Linked DNA regions of Homo sapiens: region 2 is linked to region 1. The links come from fine-mapping of genetic effects on plasma protein levels. Region 1 holds a variant in brackets. A gene starts in the other region. All regions are shown on their forward strands. Region 1 overlaps MIR4432HG (MIR4432 host gene). Region 2 holds the start of DRAXIN (dorsal inhibitory axon guidance protein).

The links. PIP is the posterior inclusion probability: the model's chance that the variant is causal. Protein levels are from antibody-based Olink assays in UK Biobank. Linkage for the fine-mapping came from a reference panel and not from the study's own genotypes, which makes the PIPs less certain.
Region 2: DRAXIN starts here. The variant in region 1 is fine-mapped to the plasma level of the DRAXIN protein (UK Biobank, PIP above 0.99).

Annotation. Positions count from the first base shown.
Region 1 is chr2:60,348,949-60,364,549 of GRCh38, forward strand. It overlaps MIR4432HG (MIR4432 host gene), which reads right to left. Exons shown (of 2, transcript NR_132992.1): 2 at 10,268-10,900. Among named protein-coding and RNA genes, the nearest start is that of MIR4432, 31 kb to the right of the region's middle. RefSeq lists enhancers at 2,654-2,733, 3,504-4,003, 4,484-4,563, 4,704-4,753. The variant A/G (reference allele first, on the strand shown) is at 7,287.
Region 2 is chr1:11,684,000-11,699,600 of GRCh38, forward strand. It overlaps DRAXIN (dorsal inhibitory axon guidance protein), which reads left to right and starts at 7,711. Exons shown (of 7, transcript NM_198545.4): 1 at 7,711-7,854. It also overlaps a transcript of MAD2L2 not described here. RefSeq lists enhancers at 645-1,145, 6,009-6,518, 6,519-7,026.

The sequences.
Region 1 (15,601 bases):
AGGCTTTAACACAGTGTATGACACATAGTATGTGGTCAGTAAATACTAGCATTATTCAATAAAAACTGCAAGGTATACTTAAAAAAAAAGTCCAAGACCTAAGGACTAAATTCTGCTCCTGTGTCCCCACTTCTCCCCACATGATTTGAACATGTTCTTTAACTCTCCGGACCTCCATTTTCTCATATGCAAGATGAGAAGGTTGAGGCCAGCTGTATCAGTGGCTTCAACACCGTTGAGTACCTTTCCTCTGGCATGGAACAAGATGCCCAAGGATGGAAATGTTTATCCTACCATCAACACAATCTAAACTGCAGCAAAATGCCAAAAAACACCAGGGCCAGGGTGACCACAGCTGCCACCCCCTGCCAGTGGCACAGGAAATAAAGAAATGACCCAGGAAAATATCTAGTAAACAGAGATCTTGGACTGTTGAGCTAAGGATAGTCTCTTCCCTTGAGACTGGCAAGTGAGTCAGAAGTTTGTTGGTTGTTTTGTCTTGTTTTGTTTTGTTCTAATCCAAGCAAAGAGGACCTCAGGGATAGGAGAGGAATGAGTCTTTCCAGTGTGCCTTTCCACTCCCATTACTACCTCCTAAGTCAGGCTTTCAGAATCTCTTCTTAGGACAATTGTGAGGGACTCCTAACTTGTCATGCTGCTTCAAGCAACCCTTCCTCCAGCCTATCCTAGATAGCACAGCCAGAGCTGTCTACCCAACGCACAGCATGGATATGCTCTCTCATGCTCAAAATCCTTTCCCAGTGCGCATTAACACTAGACTCGTTCTTCCCTCCACCCAGAGTACCTTCGACATTCTGATCCTTGAAGCCCCAGATCAATTCCTACTGCTTCCAAGAAGCTCATCCTCATGAGTTCTTGGATGAAATAGGGAGTTCCCACTCACTGGAGAATTTCAAGAAGAATGACTCAAGCACATGCTCAGGAATCTTTATTGGTTCTCCATGTTCTATTGAATTAAAAAAAAAAAAAAAAGCTCAAACTGACAGTCAATACAATCTACAACATATACTCACCCAGATTCCCACCCTACTATTCCACCCTACCTGGCCTAGTCCCCTGCTAATCCTGAGAACATGCCTCTATCTCTATCTTTATCCATATCCCTACCACCTGGTACTCCTGTCCTCCGATTGTCAAAACTTGACCCCTCCTTTGAGATTTATTTCAAATCCTAACTAAACTCTGCTGCTTTCCCTAATTCTATCCTCCTTCCAAGCCCTTTAACTCCTGTGTTTCTTGTTTTTCCCTAGGAATCAGAATCTCCTTGGCACTTCAGTCAAGGGTACACTTGGAGAACATAAGGCCATTGAGACAGGGACCGACCTATCTGTGCATTGTGACCCCTAGGTTAGCACTGTCATGCCATAGCATTTAGGAATTATTGAGTGAGGGACTCTCGAAGGTCCATGTCTTGGCTGTTGTACAAAACACACGAGCATTGAATGGGAAGTTGGACAAAATAACGCCAACAGTCTCTTCCAGTTCTGGCCTTCCAGAAACCTGGATCAGCTCTATGACATCTTCTGAACTCTGCTTTTCCCAAATCCCTTTGGCCCCTTGCCACCCAATTCACATTTAGTTGTCTGGGTTTTTTGTTATTGTTTGTATTTAATGTTTTGCAAAGAAAATGCATTCACATAGTTCAAAATAATTTTGTAATTAAAAGGTACAAAGGACAAAAATCTCACCCCCACCCCATCACGTAACTGTTTAGTTAACACTTTTATTATCTTTTTATATCCTTCCAGATTTCCTTTACGCAAATACAAATATATGTTCTTACATTTTATTACACAAACAGTAGCTTGCATGAGGTTGTTTTTGTAATTGATTTGTGAGTTAAATTTGCTCACCAGCTGCAGTGAAATTGCTGTGTTGGGAGGGTCCTTCAAAGCTCCTTTATGCCCTACTATGCCTAGCTCAGGGCTAGGCACATAAAAATGCTTAAATAAGTGCTTCTTGGTTGGCTGCCCTTCCATAACCTTCTCCAGTCCTGCCTGGAGCTGAAAGCACGTGCCCTACTTACAGCTCCAACGTGTGAGGAGAGGCCCTGCACTCTCACTTCCTCAGACACATTTTTAGAGAATCATCTGAGCCCCGGGGGCAACGATGCAAGTTTCCATCTGTGGTATGCCAGGCCTCCCATCACCTCAGCCTTTCAACTTGGTGGGAGAGAAAATATCATGGGCTAGGAATCAGGAGACTTGGATTTCCTGCAGCTGTGTCCCCAACTTGCTGTGCAACCCTCAACAAGACACTCATCCTCTCCAAGCCTCGTTCTTCTCATCTTTAGAATGAGGAGATGGCCCAGGTGATCTTCCAGGGATCTGCCCACACCAGCACGGCCCTCAGCCAGTCCCTTCCAGCCTCAGCTGTGCAGACATTGTGTGCTATGGGGATGAGGGCCACTTTGCACCCAGGAAGGCACCTGCACTCCCCCTGGACCTGTGCCCATTAGCGTGTTGATCCCAGCTAAAATGGCACAGCCTTGCCACAGTCACACAACATTGCATGAGCATCTTGGGGCAACAATTCTTTCCCCTGGGGCCACAGGCCCGGGCCCCAGAGGCAGCTGCCTGCCCGAAGCAAGACTTAGCCTTTCCTGGTAAGTCAAGAGAAGCCTAAGTGAGGTCTCCTTGATGATCCAGATATGGATCCCATGACACCTAAGGACACATCTAGGGAGGCTAGACTACCCACCGATGTAGGCTTCAAGGCCAGCACTGCTCTCACTCACATCCTTGAAGCAGGTGGCACCAGAATGGGGAATTGTGTGGTTCCCAAGAGCCTCTGTGGGGGAATTCCTCTCCATTCCTCTCTGCCCGACTGCCCTCCTCACCTGCTTCCACCTGCTGTTAGAAACAGGAGAGATGTGACCTGGAAGGCACCTCCAAGACCATCTGGTCCACCCTCTTTGTCTACAGATTCAGAAACTGAGTCCAGAGAGAGGAAGTCACTCACTTGGGGCATGCAGCTGCCTGAGTGAGGAAACAGTCTTCAATGGCAAGCCACTCAACACGTCTCAGAGAAGCCAGCCAGGGCTCCCTTCCCCCTTCTGGAGGCCGCGTCCGCACGTCCACAGTGCAGCAGGTGCCCAGCCAAGACTCTCGACTCAGGGAACAGGGTGGGAAAGCTTCTCAGGGGGAGCAGCCAGGAACACCGGGTGGTTGACTCAGTTCTCTGCACCAGTGGCGAAGGCTGGCTGCCAGCCTGCCTCTGGGGGCTTAATGTGGGTATAAACTTCTTGCAACTGTTGTAAGCAGGACAGGCAGGGAAGAGATGAAGGTGGCAGCGTTGTCTTCAGCTGACCAGTGTTCAGGCTGGAACTGGGAGTCGGGCCTGAATTCAGACCACAAAAAAAAGCTATTGTTAGGAGCCCCGTTCCCTATTAGGGATAGAGATCAGAGCTTGTGGAATTTACTTCTATTGAGTGATCCCCACTTCTCTCTGCCTGTCTAAATCCTCTCTTCTTTGAAAAGCAGCTCAGAGCTGCCTCTTTCTTGAAGCCTTCCTTGCCTACGAACACCCCCATGCAGTCTCCATCCTCTGAACAGCTTGCAGCATTTCCTTCAGGAGGCATCAAGGAACTGGGCACCCGTCATGAGTTCTGGGCTGCCGCTTAGATTACGCATGTGCCTGAGGTCATGGGACCAAAGGCTGGGCGTCTTCAAGAGGAGCAGGATGTTCTACCCCTTTAGTGCCCTCCGCAGCCCACGGCCCAGCAGAATACATAAAAGGTGTGCAATAACAACTTACTTGCCTGTTGACTGATTCCAGTTCCTCCCCCCAAAGGACAGCGAAGCCAACCACACACTCTTGAAATGCTTGTTTCTCCTGTCAGACATCCCTCATGTCCCCATGCCAGCACCCCCAGGCAGTTCCACGGGGAGAGGAGTGTAAGGTGGCAGAGTTGCCGACTGGGCTTCTGGAACTGGCATCAGGCTTGAGGGTCGTTTCGGTGGACTCCACACTGCCTCACGGACCAGGTGCAGCACAGCTGGCTAGGACCCGTAAGTCCTGCCTTGCATCCTCCCTCCCATCATTACAGCAACACACACACACACACACACACACACACAATGTCCTCATGTTTTTCCCTCTTTGGCTGCCCCTGAAGCCTATTTCCACTCAACTCCTCCTCTATGGATATGTTCGGACATGTGTAATTTATCCCAGGGCCCTTTCGGACTGGAGTTAATCTCACATCCTAGTCTACACGCATCACCTGCCACCCAACTCGTCCCCCAGGGACTCCCTCCAGCTCTGGGAAAGGCCAGGTGACAGCAGCTCTCACACCGGCTCTGGTGTGGAGAGGGGTCAGAGTAAGTAAAACCAGAAACAGAGAAATAGCAGCAGTAAAAGCAAATGCCACTGTGTTGCTGGACCTCACGGAAGCCCCTGCCCACATTTAGAAAGATCCTATAATTTCCAGACCGTCCTGGTCAATAATAATCCGAGAGAAACCTTAATGTTTGATTTCTTCCTCGTTGTGATTTGTGGCTTGTGGAGCTCAAGATCTTTGAGGCCAAAATGGTGTTTTTGTTCATTAGGCAAAGTTGCAGGCCCAGGCAGCAGCGGCTTTCTCCAGTCTGCCCCCGCCTGGCCCCAGCTGAGGCTCAGGAAACCTCCTTGGCAACGGCTAAGGGTCTCACAGTGACATTAACCCAGCCACATTCCACACATGTAATATTCCCGAGTAGTACTTAAGCTTGTAAATCCATTTTTTATGATGCAGAATTGTACAGCATGTGCAACGCGATGCGGATGTGTTAACATCACCGTGAGAAACTTAACTTTTGAATATCCTTGTTTTGGGAGGTACACATTTTACAACTTCAGCAACATGTTACCAAACATTTCTTACACAGTTACTTCCATACAAGGTTCAAGGTGGTTGGTTATATTTAAATATAGAATTTCCCCCTACCTGATCACACTGAACAAATTAAAAATGGCTCAATTATTTGCATCAAGTTCTGGGTTTCTTACTGACGCCCTTGCTTCCCTATTGTAGCTTTGAAATTAGACTTTTAATTGTGCTTGTGAAACAAAAACACAGGAGGCCATTTTCATTGCAGAACAGAAAGTTACAGGCAAAGTTAAATGCACCTGCATTTCTTTCTTTGTTGGCTGGGGGTAGGGTAAGGAGGGAGGAGGAAGAGAAAGATTTCTATTTCAATGTCTCACTTCAGGTCAGAGATTAGAACTTCCAAGCTCTGTGTGAACAGGGCACCTGCTCACCTTCTCTGGGCTGTGATTTCCTGCTCCAGCACCAGCGTGCTTCAGCATTGACAGAGGAGAAAAACTTATCCAAGTGATTTGGGCAAATATATCTGATTATCACAAGCCCTATTCTCTTTCTGTTGGCACTGATCGGGAAATGTAATTCACCACCCTCCAGTGCCATAGTCCATGGAGTGGAAAATTCTAAATTCAAACCTGTTCCAGGTCAAAGATTCTTATGTCAAGGCAGAAGAATAGAGCACAGTTTAGCAACTGATTAGCTTCATTTATAAAGCTAATTGATTAGCTTTATTTGTTAATTGATTAGCTTTTATTTGGGTTAAACAATTTAGTCATGTGACAGGTGGATGTCCATTTCTACTCTTATTCTACTCTTCTCTTGATGGTCGGCTGGCTGACCAGTTCCCAAAACACACTCTTTGCTTCAGTCAGGATGGCAATCCCACAGACTCACTGTCTCATTCTTCAACTACACCACCTCCCGCCTAAGCCTCGTTCTTCTTGGCCCTTCCCCAGGATTGCTCTCCAACCCCTTCCCTCCATCTTTCCATCCTTCCAAGCCTCATTCAGCCCCAGTTCCTCTCTGAAGCTCCCCCTGATACCTTCCACCCCTCACAGACCTCCCTGCTCTCTACACACCTGTAGTGCTCCCAGCATATGCCACCAGCTTTGCCTTGTGGAATGACTGTTTTCATCACCTGGCGACTTGTACCAGCTTGTCTCTCCACTCTTGTAAACCTGTGGGAGGGCCCCTATCTCATGTGTCTGTGCATTCCAAAGAATGCCTAAGAGGGTGTTGCACTTAGAGCTGACACTTAATAAATACTTGCCTGTTTGGGGAGGAAAATTGCAATCAAAATTTTAAATGCACTTGGCCTCTAACCTACCAGTCCCTCTTCCAGGCATCTAGCCTATGGAAACACTAGCCCACTTATATAAAGATGTATGTTTAAATGAGTTTATACATGGAAAAGGTTTAGAATAGGACCCCACCCACAGTAAGCACATTATTCAGGATTAATGGTAGTTGTTGCTACTGCTATTGTTGAGAGGTTCACTGTAATATTGTTTATAATAGCAAAAATCTGGAGCAAACCCAAATGGCCAGAAGGAAGAGTATCGTTTTTGAAAATGATGCTACATCAGTATAATTGTAGGTACATTTTAAAAAGAATTAAATTTATATATACTGAAATGGGGAAATGTCCCCAGTATTAATGTTTATCAAAAAAGCAAACCACAGAACAACACTTATAGTATGATTTCATCTTTTTAAGAACTAGGTAGTAATATGTATATGCACTATACATATTCATGGCAGCAGCATAAAGTCATAACTAAGAGCACAGATTTAGGACTCAAAACACTTGGATATTGATCCTGGCTTCACTGCCTACTACCTACGTGAGCTCCAGAAAATTACTTAACATCTCAGTTTCCTTATCTCTCAAATGGGGAAAACAGTCATATTGCCTCAGAGGACTGGCACAGGGACTAAATGAGTTCATATATGTAAAGCACTTAGAATTGTGTCTGGCATGTCCAGATTCCCCAGTAAAGGTTAGTTCTTACCACTGTTATTATCTGAAAAGGAAAAAAGACTGAAAGGATATAAACCAAACTGTTAACAGTGGTTTCCTCTGGAGAGACAAATTAGGAGAAAAGGAAACCTTCTGGTTTGGTTTTGTTTTACCACAAGCAGGTATAACTTACATCATATAAAAATACCTCCTATTTGTCAGTAGCATGGCAGGTTTGATTCATAAGGACAAACTGCTACCTGAGATGTAATGTAAGACGTCAGGATGCAGGCCACAAGCCACGGCTTCCCCATTTCTAAATCCTGATTCTAATTCCAATCCACAGCCAGAAAATTAAAAAATAAAAGATGTTATCACCAGCTGCTGCCCCACGCATACTCTGCAACCCCACAACATGCTGAAAAATGGAGAACATCTGTTTTAAAAAATGAAAGCATCAATTACTATTTTAAACGGGAAGAAAGGGAACAGGAAGTAAAT[A/G]TGGTGACAAGTGTATTTTTATTCATGCATCTTGACAGCCAAGGTAGGGTCTAGTGCTGCTTTAATAATCATCTTCCTGTAGTAGAAGATGGTTCAAAATACCATAACTTTCCTACTACTCCCTTTCACCTGGCAAAATCCTCGTCTTCCAAGACACCTTCCCAGACAACTCCAGTCTGCAGCATTCTCTCCCTACTCCCAACTCAGAGAGATTCTCTGCCCTCCCGCATCTGGGTGGCTCTCCTTCTGGTGACTCATGTCATGATTTAACATAAGCACCACCCAAGGCCCCAGAGTGTGGAGAACAGGAGCCTCTCTGCCTCAGGTTTCTGTGTCCTCCACCACATCTCATGACAATCCCGTCCCACTGGCTACAACAAAAAATCTAAAGTCCTTGGCCCGACACTCCAGGCCTCCCCACCATAGCCCCACACTCTCCACCAGGTCCTCTCTCTTTCTGGGGATGCAGTCAGACTGGCCGAGTCCCTGTCCACCACCTCCACCTTTTGCTCTCCATTGCTTACTTTTTTTTTTTTTTTCCTTTTTGAGATGGAGTCTTACTCTGTCACCAGGCTGGAGTGCAGTGGCGTAATCTCGGCTCACTGCAACTCTCACCTCCCAGGATCAAGTGATTCTCCTGCCTCAGCCTCCCAAGTAGCTGGGACTACAGGTGCGTGCCACCACGCTCAGCTAATTTTTGTATTTTTTTAGTAGAGACGGGATTTCACCATGTTGGCCAGGATGATCTCAATCTCTTGACCTTGTGATCCACCCGCCTCAGCCTCCCAAAGTACTGGGATTACAGGCGTGAGCCACTGCACCTGGCATTCCATTGCTCACTTTTGTGGCCACTTTCCCCTTATATTTGCCATCTCTATGCTGTTATCAGCTTGCTTTTCACATACCCACCTCTCGCTATTCCTTCAGGCCAACTTATTATAATACCCCCAAGTCCTGGTCCCCAGCCAATACATAAGGATCTATTTCCCCCACTCCCCTCTGCACCCCTCATCCTGTGCCTAGCAGAAAACCCAAATCACACAAGCCACCCTCTGAATGGGTAGAGCTTGTCTCTTCAACTGGATCGCAAATTCCTGGAAGGCAGGATACGTGTCAAACTTGCTTCTTTTCCTTTCTCAGATTGGGCATGAGTGGAGTGGAGCAAAGGCTTGGAGTTGAGGGAAGGCGGAGTGAGAATCTTGCCCCAAAAGTTTAATGTGGACTTTCATTTAGTAGTTATATCTATCTGACAGCTCGCTAACTTTGTATGGCAACACTTTCTTATTTGTCTTTTCATTCATTTTTCTTGCTGGGAAAGAAAAAAAAAAAGATAGTTAAAAATTAAATCCAAAACTTTCAGCTCTGATAAGATGAATTTTCTCAAAAGCCAATAATTCCACATGGCTCATCTAAAATTAGAGAGAAGTGACCAGGATTTTTAGTTGACTGGCTTTATAGTAGATGCAAGATAGTCAAAATCTATTTAAATGACTTTCTTAGGGAATTGGAGCAGCAGGCAATGTATCAGATGCCAGAAGTCCATTTAAATATTACACTAAGGGAAGGGAATTAGTTTGGTCAAGCTGCTAAAATGAATAGGCAGGGACAGAAATGCCCTGGAGAAGTGCTGGGTATTTCATCTTGAATCTATTTGAAAGATAAACACATTTATTTACTAAGTTTAGTACTTCAACTATTTTCTGGAATCGGTATTTGTACAAATCCAGGCCGAGCTGGCCAACTGGAATTAAAAAATGACCAGGACTAAAAAATTAATTTGACACTCCTCAATTTCCTTGTTTAGAAACACAAAACAAAGTCCTATTGAAATTGGAGATATATACAATATTTCAGTCTACAACTGGAAACTGCTGCTGTGCACCGGCAAACAGCAGCTCTCAGCTCCTCCAGCCCCAACGTGCTTGCCATGGCGGTCCAGGCTGCAGCTGTTTATGAGCTTAAAATGCAAACATGCTAACTTTTTTCTTCTGCAGGAAAAACATGTATTCCCACTGACACCTACTGCTGTCTTACAGATGGGCCTAACGCTGAGATTTCAAACATTTTACAGGAAATACACGGACCCACACTCCCTGAGCAGGCCCCGTGCTACCCAGGCACTTTTTAAATTGCTTTTCCAGTAGGATCCCAGGAAAAGGTTCAGTTTTGCCACCACCTGCACAAGGCCAGGATATGACTGGTTTGACAATCTCTAACCTCTGCATTCCTGCAGGGGTCCTCCGGGTAACTCTGCCCCCCACCCAGTTAGTGACCCCTTATGGACTCTGGATTGGGTGTTTGGTAGCCTGAGTTTCCTATGGCCAGCAGAGGCAGGAAGACCACACAGTATCAGACATAACATCTCACAAGATGAGGTGTGGCACAACATCCCAACTGTGCTGGAAACTGGGGCTGGCTGGTGAGGATGTCATTTAATGGATGAGCAACTCACCAGCCGGTTTCATTATTGAATGCCTCCCTCTGGCCCCTGAGTAACGGAGCTCTCGCTGGCAGGCCTGGCTCTTCCCCATAGTTCTCAAAGGTTATAGAACCCCCTTCTTCCCTTGTAAACTCTTTCAGCAATAGTCTTCCCTGCTCCCCCTATATTGTCAACACATCATAGCTGAAGCCTCAGTGGAATACCCCATCCAATTTCCCATAAAATGGGACATGAAAATAAACACACATATTGTATGTTGGTTTACATTTCCTGCACAGACCCAGCAGGGGCGACAGGAAAGACATTAAGGAAACTATTTCTAAAGCAATGGGCTACATTTTAGCCAGAATACTCTCACTGACCCTAAAAAGAAAGCCATTCAGATGGCTAAAATCCCATATAATTCTTTGAAAACGCTCTTCAACATTCCCATTTTAATTTCCAAAATCAATATGGCTTGCTAGTGCCCCATGCTCCAAGACAACAATTCATATTGATGGGGAGGAAGGGATGAACATTTTTCTATTGAATGGAAAATTTGGTTATTTTTAAGGACATTATTCCAAGAGAGAAAAAGGTCTTAAGTCCACTGCACCTGACAGAGTATTCTTTTGTTCCTAGAAGGCTGGTTTCTCTTGACATCTCTGCCCTCATTAAAAAAGCATATCACAGTTGTCACCTTTATGTTTTCAGTCATGCAGTTTCAAGCCCCAAAACAGAATGTTGTCATTTATTTTTCTTCTGAAGAAATGGCACCCTGCTCACATGCATGCATGCTCAACGCCAAAAATCCGAGAGGACATTCCTGTAGCACCTCTCTAATTCAGAGCACCTGGCAAGTCTGAGTTAGCGAGTTGTCTCAACCAGGGGATAGTAAAGGCTATTTTATGTCTTCCACGTATATTCACTAACTAGGTAATAATCACTTGCCATTAGCACATGAAAATTGTGCGTAAGTGGTGCTGCTGAAGAGCTAGAAAACAGTTTGTTCTCAGGTAGGTAAATGGTCCCTCCTGCAGTCTTGTTCACACTGTTAATTTGCTGAGCAAACCCTTTCCTCAAGGACTGTGCAAACACCGGTTTCGGGCTCCATGTTAAGGAAGCTCACAGGCAGTCCTCTGCCCCCTTGAGACGACAATTCATCTTCCACCACAACAAAGCCATTTTGCCACACCTAAGAACCAAAAAAAAAAAAAGAAAAGAAAGAAGCATTGCATGTAATATCATTGTCTCTATCAGCCATGGCCTTCCTTTGGTAGGGGCAAAATATTAGTCTCACACTCCAGCCACAAGGAGAAACTTGACACATCCGAACATTAAACTTCCTTCCAACCCTGCCCCCAACATGCCTGCCTTGCTACCCTAATTCTTCCCCCTCTCCCACCCCCAAGTTTCTGCCTATGAGGAGAGAAGGGTGAGGAAGTGCGGATGTCTGCTTCAGGGTGCTATTTGGGGTTTCATCTATTCATGCTTCTCACTTAGCACCCACTTGCCATGGAGGGGCAAGATGAGCCTGGGACCACTACCTTTGAGGGTTGGCCAAGAGTGGGCACCCTGGATCAACTCTTCTCTGGCCTCAAAGAGAAATTTCCTCTTTGCCTGCTCTTCCCTGAGGATCTGTGCTTACTCTTGTTCCAAGAGAGAAACTTGACAGACCAAGATCAGAGTGTGGGGCTAAGGACTAAGAGGACTATTAGACTGCTTTGAGGCTGGCTTTGAACCGGAGGGTTAAGGGAATCCTGAGACCCATGCTGGTGCAGCAGATTCAGCGGGAAAAGGAGTTTCACATCGAGCATGGGGTCAAAGCCCTGTGGAAATCAGGAGGCCTTTGCCAAGAGCACATACTCTGCATGTCTTTCTTGAGCCTGATCTGGGATTGTGTATTTGGGATTTGACTCATCACAAATAACCTAATGAGTGAAGAAATGTCCAAAAGCAGGTAAGTGGAAATGTGGAACATAAGAAGCTGAGATAATCCACACACAAACGACAAGTCCCCAAATGACTATGGGTTGCCTATATGTACTCCAGACATTTTCGTAAACTAAGAAGAGTTAAAATTGACCCAAGACTTTTGCCCTTCCTACATTGCAGATAACACAACTGCAAATATCTAATGCCTTTAGTAGGGATGACTGAAGTTGACATTATAGATGTAGTAAGATCCATGCCCCAAGGATGTTAAGATTCACTGTCAGACAAATAATCTGTGTTAGCTCTGATAAGAAATCCACTAGAGTAATTGGTTCCAGGGTCATGCACCTCCCCACCCCTTTGAAGAGCAGAATCCTACTTCTGGAGACCGTGAGATGGGGGCTGAACTGGAGAACCTCAAACAGAAGTTTGAAGCTTCCTGGCCAGGCGCCGTGGTTCACGCCTGTAATCCCAGCACTTTGGCAGGCCGAGGTGGGCAGATCACCTGAGGTCAGGAGTTCGAGACCAGCCTGGCCAACATGGCAAAAGCCCGTCTCTACTAAAAATACAAAACTTAGCCATGCATGGCGGTGGGTGCCTGTAATCCAAGCTACTCAGGAGGCTGAGGCAGGAGAATCCCCTGAACCCAGGAAATGGAGGTTGCAGTGAACGAAGATAGCACCACTGCACTCCATGCACTCCAGCCTGGGTGACAGCATGAGACTCTGGCTCAAAAAAACAAGAAACAGCAATAACAACAACAACAACAAAGTTTGAAGTTTCCTGCTTTATTTAACATTAATGCCAATTTTGCATTTGACTCCATCATGTAATGATGATCTTTCCATTAATTACATTTTCCTCAAAAATTCATAAGTAAAATAAATGCTCCATGAAAGTTGCCATGTTTATCCTACAGCCCAGGGTTCACCCAGGATACCACCACCTCACTCGACACTCCCCAGTTTGAGAAGAAAAGCAACAAGGGAATGAAAGTACAATTCTGAATCTTGGAAGGAGAAGTGAAAAGAATGCTTATCAAAGTAGGGGAAGACAGAAAAGAAGAATTTTTTGGTATTTTTCCCATAGTCATTTTCCATAACTGCTGAGTCACTGCTAGAAAATGGTTAAAGTATTATGTTGGCTTGTCATGAACTTTTCCATCAAACTGTGTTCATTTGGCAAAAAGTTTTCTCTCCTAGGGACCATCAGAACTTGGCTTAGGAACAGGCTCTCCAAACACCTTGAGAACTTCATGCACATAAGTGCAACTCCTTGATCCCTTAATACATCTAAATTCTGATGAAGTCAATGAAGGTGTCAGAGCAAGACACAAAATCCTCAAGGGACTACCACCAACTTAGCTTTTCCAGTTCACATGGAGATGTTAACTCCACTTATCAAAGAGAAGTACAAAAAGGCACTCAATTATGAAAAGTAGAAACCAAAATGAATGATATTGTGAGTTGGCCTCAGCTGGGGTTTCCTGAATTTATTACCTTAGAAAGTTAAAAATTGGATCTGCCTCTTCCACCCAATATGGTAGTTGGTGGAAAGTAGCGTCTCAGAGCAAATCGCCAGAGTCATGGTGGCCTCCTCAAAGAGGAACAGCTACGCAAACCCCACCAACGCAAAAGGAGAAAGAATAATCACTTGGAGAAGCAAGTTAATGAAATCATGTGTGTAAAGACAAGTAAAATTTTAATACTATTATTAGATAGTTTGATATATGATGAAATCAAGAGGGAAAGACTTAGAGATATGAAAGAAAGGGGAAGTCAGGAGGCCAGGGAGGACCTGGGAGGCCAGGGAGGAGGAGTAGGGAACGGTAGAAAGAATGCAAAGCCCAGAAGAAAGAGAACAGAAAACACAGGAAGAGAAGTAGATAGCGGCTGAGCACGGTGGCTCACGCCTGTAATCCCAGCACTTTGGGAGGCCCAGGTGGGCCGATCACGAGGTCAGGAGATCGAAACCATCCTGGTTAACAGGGTGAAACCCCGTCTGTACTAAAAATACAAAAAATTAGCCAGGCATGGTGGCATGCACCTATAGTCCCAGCTACTTGGGAGGCTGATGCAGGAGAATCACTTGAACCCGGGAGGCAGAGGTTGCAGTGAGCCGAGATTGTGCCACTGGGCAACAGAGCAAGACTCTGTCTCACCAAAACAAAAAAAAATTAACCATTTTGGGGGAAAAAAAAAAACTAGTACTAGTATAAGCCAGAAACTTCAGAAGATGGACCTTCCACTTGAATTGTGGTTCAGTCCACCTTCTTGAAACAAAACAGTAATGATTTTGTTTCCATGGCCACATCTTCTGTCATGATTTGATTTGCGGGAAGAGTTTACAAAGATGTGATTGTACCTAGCAAAAAGTATTGTCAACAGATTTACTTATTAGAGTAAGGAGCATCATTTTCTCTATTTCATGCCAAAGTTAGGCATTGAAGCAAACCTCTCTCTCTCAAAAATACACACACGGACACACACACACAGGAGCACCTACACATACATCACTCTCTCTCACACCAGCCGGATATTCATGTCGATACCAAGTCCCAAAGCCTCTCTCACCTGAGTTTCCACCATCTTTCTTCCTTATAAGCTTCAAAGCTGCATACGTGATGTAGGAAACCAACTCTCACTTGCCATATCAAAACACAGCCAAGGCCAGGCACAGTGGCTCATGCCTGTAATACCAGCACTTTGGGAGGCCAAGGCAGGAGGATCAGGAGTTGAGGAGTTCAAGACCAGCCTGGGTAACATAGGGAAACCCAGTCTGTTCAAAATTTTTTAAATTAGCCAGTTATGGTGGCATATGCCTGTAGTCTTAGATACTTGGGAGGCTGAGGTGGGAGGATCGTTTGAGCCTGTGAGGTCAAGGCTGCAGTGAGCCATGATTGCACTACTGCACTCCAGCTTGGGCAACAGAGCGAGACCCTGGATCAAAAAAAAAAAAAGTTTAATGGGGCCAATACATAGGCTTCTTTTAAAGAGCTTCTGGGCTGTCAGAATTTTAGGGTTCAAACAAAAACTACATTTGACTTACAGGGTCCTTCTTCTCCAGCGTCCTGGTAAAGGAGACAACAAAACAGCCAAAAGGTAGACAGACCCTGGAGAAGAGGTGTAAAGAGCTGGGAAATCCTCTAGTCCTGACTAATTGAAAGTAGACCAGGGATCCCTGTGTTCTATGAACCCTCCACTGCAATTGGACAGTAGGCTCCCTGAAAAGGCTCAAGCACTGCTCAGATCATTCCAAATTACAAGGGGGAAAATCCCTTGAATGAAGAGCTCAGTGAGCAATCCCCACCTATTTTAAAGTGTAAGGACACCACCAGAAACATGAAAATCTTCCTCCCACTCTTGTTCTTAGTCACTTGAGCCCACTACACTCATGTGCGTGGATGCAGAAAATAAAAATGGCCTGCAGTCCCTTGAAAAACTTTCCTTAATCTTGATGTTACTTTAAAGCCATCATAAATCATGCAACCTGCCAATCTTGTTGTGTTTTATAAACTGTGGGAGCAGTAGAGCATTTCTGGCCCAACGATCTCCTAGTAACAAATGCCAGTTCTAATGCCACTGCATTTTCTCAATACCACTTGACCTCTTAAACAAGGCCCTACAAATATATTAACTGTCATATTCTCAATTTCTTTTTTTACAATGGGAAGTGATATTCTCTTATGACTAGCCTGATGGAGCCAAAGGCAGCTTCTTTCTGGACATTGAAAAAATACCCAATTGTGGTACGTAGGCCTTTCCTGCCTGATAGCTACCACCCCTAACACTCCTGAGTTATCTCTTCCCTATAAACCCCTAGGGTCACACCCCACAGGCTCTCCAGGTTCCTGCTGAATCCCAGCCTGCCCATGCTCCTTGATGGCATCCAAATCAGTGCCAAAACCAAGCCCTGAAGGGGGACACTCTGCATGGCCTTCAGGATCAATGGAAAAGGCAGA
Region 2 (15,601 bases), not on the chromosome of region 1:
GGCCTTGGGTTCAGATCCAATCACAAACAGAAGGAAGGTGGGTTAGGAAGCAGATGGGGAGGGATTCAAACCCATCTGACCCCAAACCCCTAAAAGGCTTCAGTCTCATTAGTGAAATGAACAGGCCAGATAGATGTTCCCTAAACCTCTGATGGCCTCAGGTTCCATGGGGGCGGGGGCAGGGGCAGGGGGCCGAGTCAGCATGGGCCCATCCGGGGAGCTCTGCCAACACTCCATCCATGCGCTCTTCAGCATCTGGTTTTGCATATCTTAATCGCATCAGCATGATGGATGGTTGTGGGATCCAGATTACATTATGGGGTTAATTTATTACATTTTTGAACATCCGTCTGCTGGGAGACTGTTGTTCAAAGTTATTTGCATATTTTTCACCATAATGACAATATGTAGGAGGGCGGCTGGGAAGGAAGGATGGGTGTTTAGGGGGAGCAAGAGTTTATTTGCCAACTAGAGCAGGTCCCTGAGGATCTCTGATGGGGACGGAGGGAAAATCACTCCCAAGAGACACTGAAATGGAAACTGAGAAGGTGAGCTGTGAGCACCAGCCCAGCAAAGAGGAAGACCTGCTCGGGCAGAGGAGGACTGCTGGGGTTTATGGAACAAACCCACAGTGAGTGAACCGGGCAATGAAGTTTCCAGACCCCAGAAATGATTCCAAGACCCCTCCCATCCCCACCAGGCTGATGGCAGAATGAATCAGCTCTCCCACCCTGCCTAAGGTTCCCAGGACACCAATCACATGGGTATGGGGGACATACAGAGTGAGACACACATAGCCTGGTGACAATCTCCTGATATCCTGACGCTCAGGGGCCCATCCAGTTGCAATGCTCCGGGGCAGGGACCCAGCCCTCATTCATTATTTCAATATAGTGCCTGGCCAAATTCAGGTTCTCTCTCTCTCTCTCTTTTTTTTTTTTTCCCAGAGACAGGGTCTCTCCTTGTCACCCAGGCTAGAGTGCAGTGGGGCAATCATAGCTCACTGCAGCCTGAAACTCCTGGGCTCAAGGGATCCTCCTACCTCAGCCTCTTGAGTAGCTAGGATTACAGGTGTGCACCACCACACCTGGCTGATTTTTCAAATTTTTTGCAGAGGCAGGGTCTCCCCATGTTGCCTAGGCTGGTCTCGAACTCCTGGGCTCAAGTGATCCTCCTGCCTCTCACCCTCGCAAAATGCTGAGATTACAGGCTTGAGCCACCATGCCCAGCCCGAATTCAGGTTCTCAGCAAATGTGTGTCAAATGAGTGAATGAAAGAATGAATGGCAGAGGAATGAAGTGATGGTGGACAGTGGCTCATTACCACTTGCCTGACTTGAATCCCAACTGAGTCTGGATGAGGAGCAAAACACGTCGACTTCAGTGCCCGGGCTATGGGTGGCACTATGCAGAGAAAAGCTATTTTCAAAAACAAAAGCAAGGGCTGTGGCATGTTCCCTATGGTGTCCCCAGCACCCACTGGGCCTGCTCATGTGTCCAACCTGCTGCTTCTCTCCCCAACACTGCCCCTTAACCAGCTGCGAGGCCCTTCTTTCTCTGAACCTCAGTTTGCTCATCTGTAAAATGGCATAATGGTAGTTCTAATTTCATAGGATTGAGCAAAGAGCAAATGTTTATGTCCATGTTCATGTTTATAAAAAATATAAAGTGCACAATGCCAGGCATGGTGGCTCACGCCTATAATCCCAGCTTTTTGGGAGGCCAAGGTGGACGGACCACTTGAGCTCAGGACTTCGAGACCAGCCTGGGCAACATGGCAAAAACTCTACAAAAAATATAAAAATTAGCTGAGCATGGTGGCGTGCACCTGTATTCCCAGCTACTTAGGGGGCTGAGGTGGGAGGATCACTTGAGCCCAGGAAATCAACGCTGCAGTGAGCCATGTTTGTACCACTGCACTCCAACCTGGGTTATAAAGTGAGACCCTGTCTCAAAAAATAAACAAATAAATAAAGTGCACAATGCCTGGCACATAAATGCTCAATTAATGACTGTTATGACAATGATATTAAGGTCTATATACACTATTTAAGCCCCCAGAACAAACCCTCTGGACAAGCTGTCACACTTTTCAAAACCCCATCCAAACCATCCTTAGCGGCATCCCCATAGCTCCATTTCCATTTCCCAAGGCAGCAGGCAACTCCCAAGGTGCCCTAGGGAGGACACGCATCATCACGGAACAAGATGCCTAAAGACAAGGACTTCCTGCTGACAGCTCCTCTCCGCTCTCATCTGCCTTCTGGTGTGAGGCCTGACCTGGACAGCTGTCCCAGATCCCAGGGTTCACTGCTGACCTGAGATGGCTTCCGACACTTCAGCCAGAGCAAAGCCCTCACCTGCCATTCCCTCCGTGGGGTTCTACTGATTCCCAGTGTTGCTGACCCCTCAGTGGTCAGGGGGACCTTACTGATCATCTGCTCTTTTTTCATAGAGACAGGGTCTCGCTGTGTTACCCAGGCTGGTCTTGAACATTTGGCCTCCAGAGTTCCTGCTTCAGCCTCCCAAAGCTCTGGGATTACTGGCATAAGCCACCGCGCCTAGCTAATTTTTTTGTACTTTTAGTACAGACGGGGTTTCGCCATGTTGGCCAGGCTGGCCTCGAACTCCTGACCCCAAGTGATGTGCCCGCCTCCACCTGCCAAAGTGTTGGGATTACAGGCTTGAGCCACTGCGCCCGGCCCAGAGACACTAAATGCCTTACACAACATCAGGAGTGTCCAGATATATTCAGAAGCCATCCTGGGCCACAAGGTAAGAACTTTTGATCCAGCTCAACTGCCACTTTAAAAAAAAAAAAAAAAAAAAAAAACTTCTCTGTGGAGATATAATTCACAAACCATAAAGTTCACATTTTCCCTGGGTACAATTCAGTGATTTTTAGTATAGTTACAATGTTGTACATCGCTACTCTCTAATTCGGAACATTTTCATCACTCCTGATGTCTTGAGAAGGGTTGTTCATGCCCAAAGTGTGTTGCCAGGTACATCAGTTCCAAAACTACTAATCTACTTTCTGTTCTATGGATTGTCCAATTTTTTTATTTTTTTATTTTATTTTTTGGAGACAGGGTCTCACTCTGTCATCTAGGCTGGAGTGCAGTGACGCAATCACAGCTCACTGAAGCCTCAACCTCCTGGGCTCAAGCGATCCTCCCACCTCAGCCTCCCCAATAGCTGGGGCTACAGGTGTGCACCATCACACCCAGCTAATTTTTATTTCATTTATTTCTTTTTTGAGACGGAGTCTCTCTCTGCCACCCAGGCTGGAGGGCGGTGGTGCAATCTCGGCTCAATGAAATCTCTGCCTCCCCGATTCAAGCGATTCTCCTGCCTCAGCCTCCCGAGTAGCTGGGACTACAGGCGACCTCCATCACGCTTGGCTAATTTTTAAATTTTTAGTAGACATGAGGTTTTGCCATATTGGCCAGGCTGGTCTCGAACTCCTGACCTCAGGTGACCCACCTACCTTGGCCTCCCAAAGTGTTGGGATGACAGGCATGAGCCACCACGCCCAGACTAATTTTTAAAATTTTCTGTAGAGAAGGGGTCTCACTATGTTGCCAGGCTGGTCTCCAACTCCTGGCTTCAAGAGGTCCTCCTGCCTCACCCTCTCAAAGTGCTAGGATTACAGGCATGAGCCACTGCGCCTGACCTGGACTTGCCAATACGGAACATTCCATATAAAAGTAATTGTACAAAATATGGTCTTTTATGTCTGGCTTGTTCCACTTAGCATAATGTTTTCAAGATTCATCCAGGTCGAATCACATATTGATACTTCATTCCTTCGTAGAACCAAAATACTCCCGTGTATGGATAGACCACATCTGCTTATCCAGTCATCAGTTGATGAATATTGGAGCCTGCTTTGGCCCCTCAAGTACCTCATTTTACAGACAAGGAAACTGAGGCCCTAAAGTCATCATAAACTGGATGGGATAGGAGTCCAGGCCTCTCCTAACATCCACCTTTTCATATTGTGTCACCCCAGCTCCAAGCACATCGGAAGATCACCCAGCCAGGGGACAGCCACAGTAGCAGCATTTGAACCAGAGACTCCAAGGTTTTTCTCCTGGCTCATGAATACTGGCCCACAGCTCTATCCTTGGCGACGCAAATCATGCTGGCTGCACACTGCCCCCTCTCCCAGGCCCAGGTGACCATCATCTCTTCTCTGCCACAGTACTTAGCTGGTCTCTTGCTTTCACCCTTGTCCCACTGCAGACTACTCCCAACCTTAGGAATCAGCACACGTGGCCGGGCACGGTGGCTCATGCCTGTAATCCCAGAACTTTGGGAGGCCGAGGCTGGCGAATCACCTGAGGTCAGGATATCGAGACCATCCTGGCTAACATGGGGAAACTCTGTCTCTACTAAAAATACAAAAAATTAGCCAGGCATGGTGGCAGGTGCCTGTAGTCACAGCTACTCAGGAAGCTGAGGCAGGCGAATCGCTTGAACTTGGGAGGCAGAGGTTGCAGTGAGCCAAGATCGCGCCACTGCACTCCAGCCTGGACAACAGAGCAAGACTGCATCTCAAAAAAAAAAAAGAAAAAGCAATCAGCAAACCTGCTAAAAACCTAAGTCGGATCATGTCTCTGCTCTGCTCATGGTCCCTCTAAAAAGCTCAAGTCCTCCCTGTGGCCTTTGCAGGCTCACATTGTTAGAGGTGTCTGAACCAGAGCAACCCCATCTTGAGTAGGGGCTGGGTCAAATGGGGTTGGGACTTGCTGGGCCATATTCCCAGATGGCTAAGGCATTCTAAGTCACAGTATGAGACAGGAGATCAGCACAAGATACAGGTCATAAAGACCTTGCTGATAAAACAGTTTGCAGTAAGGAAGCCTGTCAAAACCCACCAAAAGCAAGATGGCCACGAGACCAACCTCTGGTCATCCTCACTGCTCCACTCCCACCAGTGCCATGGCAGTTTACAAATGCCATGGCAACATCAGGACGTTACCCTATATGGTCTAAAAAGGGGAAGCAAAGGCCAGGCACACTGGCTTACCCCTGTAACCCTAGCACTTTGGGAGGCCAAGGCAGGCAGATTGCCTGGGGTCAGGAGTTCGAGACCCGCCTGGGCAACATGGCGAAACCCTGTCTCTACTAAAAATACAAAAAATTAGCTGAGCATGGCGGTGTGTGCCTGTAACCCCAGCTAACTGGGAGGCTGAGGCATGAATCGCTTGAACCTGGGAGGCAGAAGTTGCAGTGAGCCGAGACTGTGCCACTATACAAGCCTGGGCAACAAAGTGAGACTCTGTCTCAAAAAAAAAAAAAAAAAAAAAAAGGCTGGGTGCTGTAGCTCGAGCCTGTAATCCCAGCACTTTGGGAGGCTGAGACAGGTGGATCACCTGAGGTCAGGAGTTCAAGACCGGCCTGGCCAACATGGTGAAACCCCATCTCTACTGAAAACACAAAGTTAGCGGGCATGGTGGTGTGCACCTGTAATCCCAGCTACTCGGGAGGCTGAGGCAGGAGAATTGCTTGAACCCGGGAGGTGGAGGTTGCAGTGAGCTGAGATTGTGCCACTGCACTCCAGCCTGGGTGAGAGCAAGACTCCCTCTCAAAAAGAAAAACAAAAGGCGGGGGGAGGGGAGAAGCATGAATAATCCACCCTTTGTTTAGCACATCATCAGGAAATAACCATAAAAATGGGCAACCAGCAACCCTTGGTGCTGTGCTGTCTATGGAGTAGTCATTCTTTTTATTCCTCTACTGTCTTAATAAACTTTTTACTCTATGGACTCGCCCTGAATTATTTCTTGTGCGAGATCCAAGAACCCTCTCCTGAGGTCTGGGTCAGGACCCCTTTCCTGTAACAACATGGTCCTATCCCAGCTCCCTGTCTGATGTCACCTCACTCTGTTCCAGACTGACTCTTCTCCACCAAACACACCAAGCACACTCCCGCTCCAGGACCTTTGCAGTGGCTCTTCTGCTTGCAAGTCTTCTCCCCACAACCACGTGGCTCATTACCTCCTTTTCTTTGCCAAAAGAACTGCCCCAGCAAAGAGGCCTTTCCTAATAACTTTATGTAAAACAACACCTCGTCCCTTCATGCTTTGTCTGTAATGTGCTTTACTTTTCTTCATAGCACTAATCACCACCTGACATCATTTATATTTATTTGTTCACTTATCTTCTGTCTCCTTCACTAGAATCTGAGCTCCATGGGGGCAGGGATTCTTGTCCATGTTGTTTACTACTGTACCTCCGGTGCCGGCACATAGTAGGTGTTCAATAGGTATTTATGGGATGGATGACTCAAACCTTTCAGTGAATAAACAGTTCAGTGTTCTCATCAATCCATCCTGGTGCCCACCAAGCTAATAATATCACGGTAACAATGGCAGCTAATTTTACAGGAGCATTTCCTATGGGCCAGACCTTAGAAACGTTATCTCCTTACACAGGGCACTGCATTCACGCCTAGAACACTGAAATTTAGGTATAATCATGAGCTCAGAGGTCAGGCGACTTGCTCGAGGTCATAGGGGACGGCATCAGAAGAGGAACACAGACATTTAGCCTGACGGCAGAACTGTGTTCTAAAACCTCAAAGTCATAATTTGCCACACGCTGGAGAAAGAAAACAGTCGAAATGGAAGCCACCTGGCGAGCTCAGGGCGCCAGGTGGGAGCGCTGCTTCCCACATATGGGAGTCCGGCCCCATCGCTCTTTGATCTTTGCAGCGTCCGTGGCCCCACCGACCCCGTCGTGAGTTATGGGAGGCACGGGACCCATAACCCAGCATTCTCAGACTCCCAGGGTCGTCAGGACACGGCGCCCCGCGCGGTGATGGATGAGCCGGCCCCAGCGCTGGCTTTGTCCGGGTTGGGCCGGTCTGAGAAGCTTCAGGCCGGCTTTGGACGGGGCGTGGCGAGAGCCGCGCCGCGTGTGAGTGTGTGTGTGTGTGTGTTTGTGTGTGTGTGTATTGGGGCGGTTGTCTTTCTCCCTTCCCTACCGGGAAAGAGGGCACAGGTGCGCCGTCAGCGCCCCAGGTGAGCTGGTAGCACTTTGAAGACCCTTTGTACCCCTACATCCAGGAGCGACCTCTCGGAGAACCCCGCCTGCCCACTCTGCGCACTTTCTGCGGCTACAAAGGCCCCGCCGTTCCCCGTCCCGCCTCCCCCGCCCTGGGCATTTCTTCCGTCCCTTTTGACAGTCTAGGCGGAATAATCCTTTTGTGGCCCCGGGCCCCTGCCCTGACAGACGCGGCCGCAGCTGAGCGCGCAGCCTCGCTCCATTGTTGGGGTCCACCGAGGACCGCCCGCCGCGGCCCTTTGTCGCCCGCCCTGCGCGGGGCCGCTCCAGAGGCGCCACAACTGCCGGAGCCCCTCCCGTCCCACGCGCCCTGGGCCGCGCCGAGGCGGCTCTTACGCACCGGGAGGAGTGGGCCTGCCTCGCCCGGTGCCCGCACGGCTGCTGGGCTGCGCCCGCCTTTGTCTGCCTCCTTTGTCTGCCCCGCGCCCTCGCGGCGGCGGCGCCTAGGCCTCTGGGGAGCTGGCCCAGAACTCAGAGCGCAGCTGGCGAGGGCGCGCTGGCCGGGTGCGCGCCGGGCCCGGCCCCGGGGCTGCCCCTCGGCTGGGGGCAGTCGAGCCCGCCACCCGCCGCCCCTCCTCTGTCCCCTCCCCGCGCTCCCGCCCCCTTCCCTCCTGCCCGCCCACTCCCCCTTCCTTCCAGTCCCGCTCAGCCCGGGCACATCCTCCGGCTGCCCGCGCACCTCTCCACGCCGGCCCCGTTCCGCGGCTCGCCCTCGGCTGCGCTCGGCTCCCGCGGGCGCTCGGCCCCGAGCCCCTCCTCCCCCTACCCGCCGGCCGGACAGGTAAGGCACGGCCTCGGCCCGCCCCTGGCTCCGCCCCTCCCGCCCCACCTGGCTGCGAGCCCGGACAAAGGTGGGCTACCTGGCGCGCCCAGGGGCGGGGTGCGCGGGGTCCCGAGGCTGGAAGTGAGGATGCTGCCTCCTTCCCAGCCCTCGGACCCGTCTATCCGCCAGTCCTTCCGCCGCCTCCTCTCCTCGCCGCGTCTGCCCACGGACCCTGGCTCTGCTCCCGGGCTCCCCATCCGTCCACCTACCGCTGGACGCCCACTTTTCCACGCTCTGACACTCGGCCTCGCGCGCGCCCTCGCCGCCCTCTGGGGTCCCGGCTCGCACCTACTCTCCTCGGCACTAGCCTTCTCTCTCCCTGACCCAGTCTCCCTTTGTCTCTCTGTCTCTGAGTCTCCGGGTGGTCTCTCAGGCAGGGGGCCCCAGTCCGCCACCGTTGGAAGAAGTCTTCGAAGACTCCCTGAGCCCCGGGCAGAGCTGGCGGGCGTGCCCTCCAGCCCCTTTCGAGGCCGCCCAGGAGGCTGGGGTGTGTGGCCGGGGTCGCTGAGTGCGCCCGGAACCAGCACCGCCGGTGGCCCCGCGCCGTCCCATCTGTGCCCAGGAAGGTACTCAGCCTGGCTCCCCCGACGGCGCTGGTCTTTCGCCTGTGGTCTCCCGCTCTGTCCCTCCTGCTCCCCACCGCCGGCTTTTGGCTTTTCTCCGTCCGCTCGTCAAGGGTCTCAGCCGCCTTCGGGGCCGGGGTATGAGATGAGAGAGGGCTGGGGTTTCCCGCCAAGTCTTTCTTGCTTTCCTCAGCTGGGTGCTCCCTGGGCCATCCTCTCCGCCCGGTGGTCTCCCCTGCCCTATATGCTCCCTCCACGCTGCCCACCTCCCAGCCCAGTGACACACTGGTGTCTGGAACCGGTTCAGTACTATGCATCTGGAGTCGGGTACACTGGGGCTCTGGGAGTGATCTCGGACAAAGGAATGCACCTCTCTGAGCCTCAGTGTTCCTGTCACAAAACAGGGATGGTGCTAGTCCCTACCTATAGGGATGTGTGTGGAAATTGTGGGGTGCCGCTTGGTGCTGGTTCACACACCCTGTGGAGGAAGGGAGGGGAGGGGAGGGGAGTCTACAGACCTGGGATGGGGTGGGGACAGGGGGCTCCACAGAAATGGATCTCAAAGTCAAGGCTTAGAGACACTTCAGAGTAACCCCACCACCACAGCCTCTTCCCCCATCACACTTCCTGTCACCTTCACCTCCTCGTGCCCATACAGGCGTCCACACCCTTGCAAGCACTCTTCTCTTTCTCTCTCTCCTCCTCTTTGCTTGTCCTAAAATCAGCTAAAACAATCAGGGCCAATGGGTCACTTTTTTTCAAAATGAGATCAGTGTGGCTGAGCTGGTGTTGCCAACAACTGATCACCCATCAGAAGGCGTCCGGTGACTCACCCCCAATTCTGAACCTCAGTCTTGGCTTGATGCCTTTAATAGCGGCACCAGCTCACAGGCCACTTCCTTTCCTCTGAGGGGATTGTCTTGCTGGCTCCTGGACCTGCTGTGTGCTTGCCCAAGCCCCCTGACCACTGTCTAGGTGGTCATAACATGTGACACACCACTCCAGGAGTCTGGCAGTGACGTGGCCTGAGTGTCTTAATGAGGGCAACTTCAGAAGAGGGAAACCTCCCAGCTGGCAGGTTCCAGGCTCCCCTGGCTGAGTTCTTATTTCAGCCACAGCCAGGGCTGGCAACTGGAACCTTTCTCTTTAGAGGCAAGAACGGCTGGATATCCCCACGACATCCCCCATCCAGGCTCCTGCTCGAAATCCGACCTGGCAGACAGGCCCTACTTTGGTGAACCCGGCCCTTCATACCATCTCTACCCCCTGCCTTCTGCAGCAAAGCCAGCTCAGAGGCTTGGGAACCTTGCTCAGGTCCTCTCTGCTCTCTCCGCTGCCTTCCTCCCCACTATTCAATTCATCGCCCTCCCAGTCCATAGTCCTCAGTGGCTCACTGTGGCCACTCAGTTAACTACAGAGACCTCAGCCCAGCCTAGCCCTGTCCTGCCTGCCTCCCAGCATTGTCCCCTCTGCGTCCCAGGTTGCAGCCACGATGGAGAACTGACCATCTCCACAGTCTGCCCTCCTCTGAGCTTTTGCTAGGGCTCTTTCTGCCCTGCCCTGTGTTTGATCTCAGCCCTCTGTCTTTGCTGACCAAGGAGGTCTGATGTCCTCTCCTGTGGGAAGCACCCCGGCACTCCCTTGCCTCCCTAGCTCTTGTGAACTGCACGGCATAATCCCTATCTGGGAGGGGTCTGCTCCTCCCTGGGTGGGGGCTGGGTCTCCTTCTGCTTGTGGTCCCAGTGCCTGGCACGCAGTAGGGGCTCTGTGCACACCTGTTATATTGAATGTGATTCCTGGTCAAAGGCACAGGAATGAACTGAAAACTGCAAGCCCCAGTGTCTTGCTGAGTTCTGCTGGGTCCTGCTGGTGGGGCCAGGGCGGAGCTGGCCCTCTGGCTGGGGAGGTTGGAGGGGGAGCAAGCTGCCCGGAAACCCCTGTGATACTGAGGCCCTGTATCACTCTGGAAAATGAGGGTGGTCTCTGTGCCTGTTATAGGGGTAGAAACTGAGACCAGAGAACGAAGTGGCTCACCCCAGCCGTGCAGATTGGGTTTGAAGCCCAGCTGATCACTTAGCAGCTGTGGGACCCAGAGGGAGTTCCTTCACGTGTGTCGGCCAGGAATGTGATGGAGCAGGGACTTGCATCCCAGCCTCCCCGAACTTCCCTCAGAGGCATGAGCATGTTCCTGGGGGGCAGGTCATAGGAGCACCCCTGTTCTGGCCCAGTGGGTTGGAGCTGCCTCCCTCTTGCTCCGCTGGCCCTCTCTGCATGCCCTACTCCAGCCTTCCTTCTCAGGGGTGAGTCGCTGTGGCCAGTGGTCCCCAAGAAGAAGAAGGTTGTGGGAGGATGGCTGAATCCTTGCCAGTAGAGGCTCTGCCACCCCAGGTTCCAGCTTGACAACGCCCCATGCCCCAACACCATGACCCACCCATGCCCCAACACCAAGACTTCTCTTGATGGGATGGGGTTGAAGGGGTGGTTATGAGGGATGAGGCTCCTGCTAGAACCCAGAGCAACTGGAAGGAGCTCATTGCAGGACTTAATGGTTTTCAGGTGTACCAGGCTCTGGGTCAGGCCCCAGCTCATGCCACCTTCCCTGGGACTCACAGCAGCTGCACTGGTGTTGGTTACTGGATGGCAGCATGAGGAGCAGTCTCGGCCAGGAATGTGATGGAGCAGGGATGATGAGTCTGAGGAGTCAGATGGCTGTGGGTTCGAATCCCAGCTCTATCACTTGCTCTACTAGGCTATCTTAGGCAAGTCCCTTGGTCATTGTCTTAATGTTCCTACACAGCCATTGTTGCTATTACCATCTGAAAAATATTATCCACTTCAGGCCAGGTGCAGTGGCTTATGCCTATAATCCCAGCACTTTGGGAGGCCGAGGCAGCTAGCTCACTTGAGGCCAGGGGTTCGAGACCAGCCTGGCCAACATGGTGCAACCCTATCTCTACTAAAAAAAAAAGATACAAAAATTAGCTGGGAAGTGTGGTGCACGCCTATAATCCCAGCTACTTGGGAGGCTGAGGTAGTAGAATCACTTGAACCCAGGAGGCACAGGTTGCAGGGAGCAGAGGCTGCAGTGAGCTGAGATTGCACCACTGCACTCCAGCCTGGGCAACAGAGTGAGATTCTGTCTCAAAAAAAAAAATATATATATATATATATACTTCAAAGGGTCAAGTTAAATAATGCCTATAAAGCTCTGGGCCTAGAACCTAGAACAGTAGATGATACCCAAACAAACACAGAGCTAAATGGTCTAGGTACCAAGATAATGAAGTTTGAGGAATATGGAGGCTGAGGGTTGCTTCCCCCACCCACAAATTGCCTAGGAGAGGAGGAAGAGGGGCCACAAGTACCTATAATCTAGCAGGAGGTAGGACTCGAGTTCAGCAGGTGAGCGGGGAATGCTGGAAGCTGGAGGCCTTTGAATGGGTGGGGCCTCTGATGAACTCCCGCAAAGCCCCTGTACAGGTTTTTAAGGTGTGAGGTCTGGGGTGGGTTGAAAATCCCAAGGCTGCTGTCGGAAACAATAAAAGCAGATGGAGCTGCCCCTGCAGGGAAGCCAAACCTCATTTGCCAGGACAATGGTCCCCTCCAGGCTGGCCTAGGACAGTCCTGCCCTGCCATCGATCACCCCACTGAGGACAGAGGACGCAGCCACCTGCGCCTGCCCCTTTGCACACCCAGGCACAGATGCACAAATGCTTCCAGGAAACTCCCTGGCCCCCACCACACCCATGCCTGCCACCTTACTCCCTCTGTCTCCCCTTCCCATAGTAACAACTACTGTTTATTTCACCCTTCTGTGTCCCATTTACTTTATAAACATTTACTCCCCAGCCGGGTGCGGTGGCTCACGCCTGTAATCCCAGCACTTTGGGAGACAGAGGCAGGCGGATCATGAGGTCAGGAGTTCGAGACCAGCCTGGCCAAGGTGGTAAAACCCCGTCTCTACTAAAAATACAAAAATTAGCCGGGCATGGTGGTGGGAGCCTGTAATCCCAGTTACTCGGAAGGCTGAGGCAGGAGAATCGCTTGAACCTGGGAGGCGGAGGTTGCAGTTAGCTGAGATTGTGCCATCGCACTCCAGCCTGGGCAACAAGAGCAAAAATCTGTCTCAAAAAAACCAAAACAAAAAACACTTTGGGAGGCCAAAGCGAGCAGGTCACGAGGTCAAGAGATCGAGAACATCCTAATCAACACGGTGAAACTCTGTCTGTACTAAAAATGCAAAAATTAGCCGGGCGTGGTGGTGTGCACCTGTAGTCCCAGCTACTCGGGAGGCTGAGGCAGAAGAATTGCTTGAACCCAGGAGGCAATGAGCCTCCTGGTTTCAGTGAGCCAAGATCGCGCCACTGCACTCCAGCCTGGTGACAGAGCAAGACTCTGTCTCAAAAAACAAAAACAAAACAAATCAAAATAGCCAGGCATGGTGGTGCATGCCTGTAATCCCAGCTGCTTGGGAGGCTAAGGCAGAAGAATCACTTGAGCCCGTGAGGCAGAAGTTGCAGTGAGCCGAGATCGTGCCATTGCACTCCAGCCTGGGCAACAGAACGAGATTCCATCTTAATAATTAAAAAAAAAAAAAAAAACAACTTTTACTCCCCAATCCTCATGACAGCTAACATTTTACAAGAGAGGAAACTGGGGCCCAGAGAGGTTAAAAAACTTGCCCAGGTTGTCTAGCTCCTTCTGCTTTGCTCAGTGAGGGCCCTCCCATGGGTCAGCTTAGTGGGTTTGGGCTGACATCTGTGAGCTGGAATCGGTAGTAGTGATGTCTGGGCCTCCACCTCTCATTAATGAGACCTGTGGCCTCTCACCCGGACTGTCTCCCTTATCAGTGGGGACACCTGGAGGCAAGGACTGTGTCTTTGCTGGCAGATCAGCAGCTCCATGTTCTGGGACCCTCCCAAGGCCAGAGTTGTGCCTCTCCTATCAGATTGGCAAATTCCTGAGGACAGCAACTGTATCTACCCTGCTAGATGGGAGGCTTCCCCAGGGCAGGGGCTGCTTCTGGCTTAGATTGAAAGCACTCTGCAGCCATGGGCTAGGTCCCCTAATAGTCATAGAGTCCTCTAAGGCATGACCTGGTTCCCTCCTATCCCAATGAGCCAGGACTATGTGTCCGCCCTCAGACTGGTGGTTTCCAGGAGCAGAAGCCAGGTCTCTCCCTTCAGACTGGAGCAGGTGCCCTTGTCTGGCATCCTGGTTCTGCACACAGAGGGGCTCAGCTAGTGGCTGACCACCGGGATTCACTCTCCCCTGCGATCTCCATCGCAAGGAGGCAGCAGTCCCCAGCAGAGCAAAAGGCAGAGCTCTGTGCCTGAGAAAGACCCGTGGAGGGGTAGGTGGGGCTCTGGCTGCTCTGAGGCCTAGGGGTTGCTGAGAGGCCCCTTCCTATTGGTCAGGTGACACTTTGGGCGATACAGAGCCACAGGGAGGCAGGGAGATGGGTAGGGACTAGTCCAGGATGATCAACGCACCAGTATGCCAGTGAACACCCAGCAGGGCAGCTGCTGTGAATCCCACCCGCCCCATCCTCTATGCCACCTGCACTGCCGGGCTCCATCCATACCCGGAACACCACCACCACCCACCCACACACAAACCACACAGAAGCACTGACTTCCTAAGTAGTCAAGTCTCATGGCAGCCTAATAATCCCATTTCACAGACAAGGGAATAGACTCATGAAGGGAGGAGATGTTGGGAGGGATCAGGAGGGGGGTTAGAACACTCTCGTTTCAAATTACCTTGGGAAGAGCTCAGCCCAGGAATTAATTTAGAATCCATACAGTTGTTCCCCAACTCTCATGTAGGATATGACTGTTTTGACTGAACAAGAAAATTACCCACTTTCCAGCCCTAGGGGTGTCAGCTCCACCTAAACAAGACAGAAGTCTGCTCCTAGGGGGCCGGGGCTCCAGGAAGCCCTAACTAGATCTGGGGCTGACTGCAGAGTGGCCACACTCTGCTAAGAGCAGATGGGGCTTCCGGACTGCACTGCCCATCTCCAATTCCTGCCGTTTCAGGAAGTGTCCATGTGAGTGATGAGGAGTAGCCAGAGGGAAAAGTTGGGCAGATCAATCTCAAGTTAAAGCAATTGCTGGGCCCGGGACTCACGCCTGTAATTCCAGAACTTTGGGAGGCCAAGGTGGGAGGATCACTTGAGGCCAGAAGTTCAAGACCAGCCTGGGCAACATAGGGAGAGACCTCATCTCAACTAAAACTAAGAAAAAATTAGCCTGGCATGATGGTTTGTGGCTGTTGTCCCAGCTACTTAGGAGACTGAGGCAGGAAGATTGCTTGAGCTGGAGAGGTTGAGGCTACAGTGAGCTATGATGGTACAACTACTCCAGCCTGTAGGGCAGAGCAAGACTCTGTCTACAAACAAACAAAAAAGCAATCGTAAAATCTTCCTGGAACTACAGAGACATAAAACCTGAGATGATTCCTGCATTCAACAAAATCTCCTGAATCTGGGGATACAATTCCTCCCCACAGAGCTCCTAGGTTGGGAGTATCCGGAAGGGAAGATTTTGCCCCTAGCTCCTGGAGACTCAGTCCACACCCTACTGGATATTGTCTGTCACCCCTCCCCATAGGGGTCTGACAGTTGAACAGACAGACAGATGGAGGAGTCTTATCGTCATAGATCATAAATTCTCAGGCTCCCTTGGCAGACAGGGCCTTTGGGACCACCTAATCCAATGGCCCAGTGGTCCTCCTCCCCTACTCCCTGCCAAAAAGAAATGTTTTGAGTAGTGCAAATCTTTTCCCAAATGAAATTCGATCCGTAATCCCAATACATAAAATCAACAAAACAGTGTTTTATAAGCAGTGTAGCACTCCACCACCACCAAGAATGCCTTTCCCCAAATCAAAAATGTCTCTATTTTATGCAGACACAACACACCTTTAAGCCCTACTTGCGATCAGACTAACTCTCTTTGGCTTCTCCCACCTAGATTCTGTGCGACCACTGCTTTGCCCCAGTTTATAATAATTACTTATTTTAATTTTTGTTAAAAAAATTTTTTTTTAGAGACAGGGACTTACTATGTTGTCCAGACTGAATTCAAACTCCTGGGCTCAAGGGATCCTCCTGCCTCAGCCTCCCAAGTAGCCAGGAC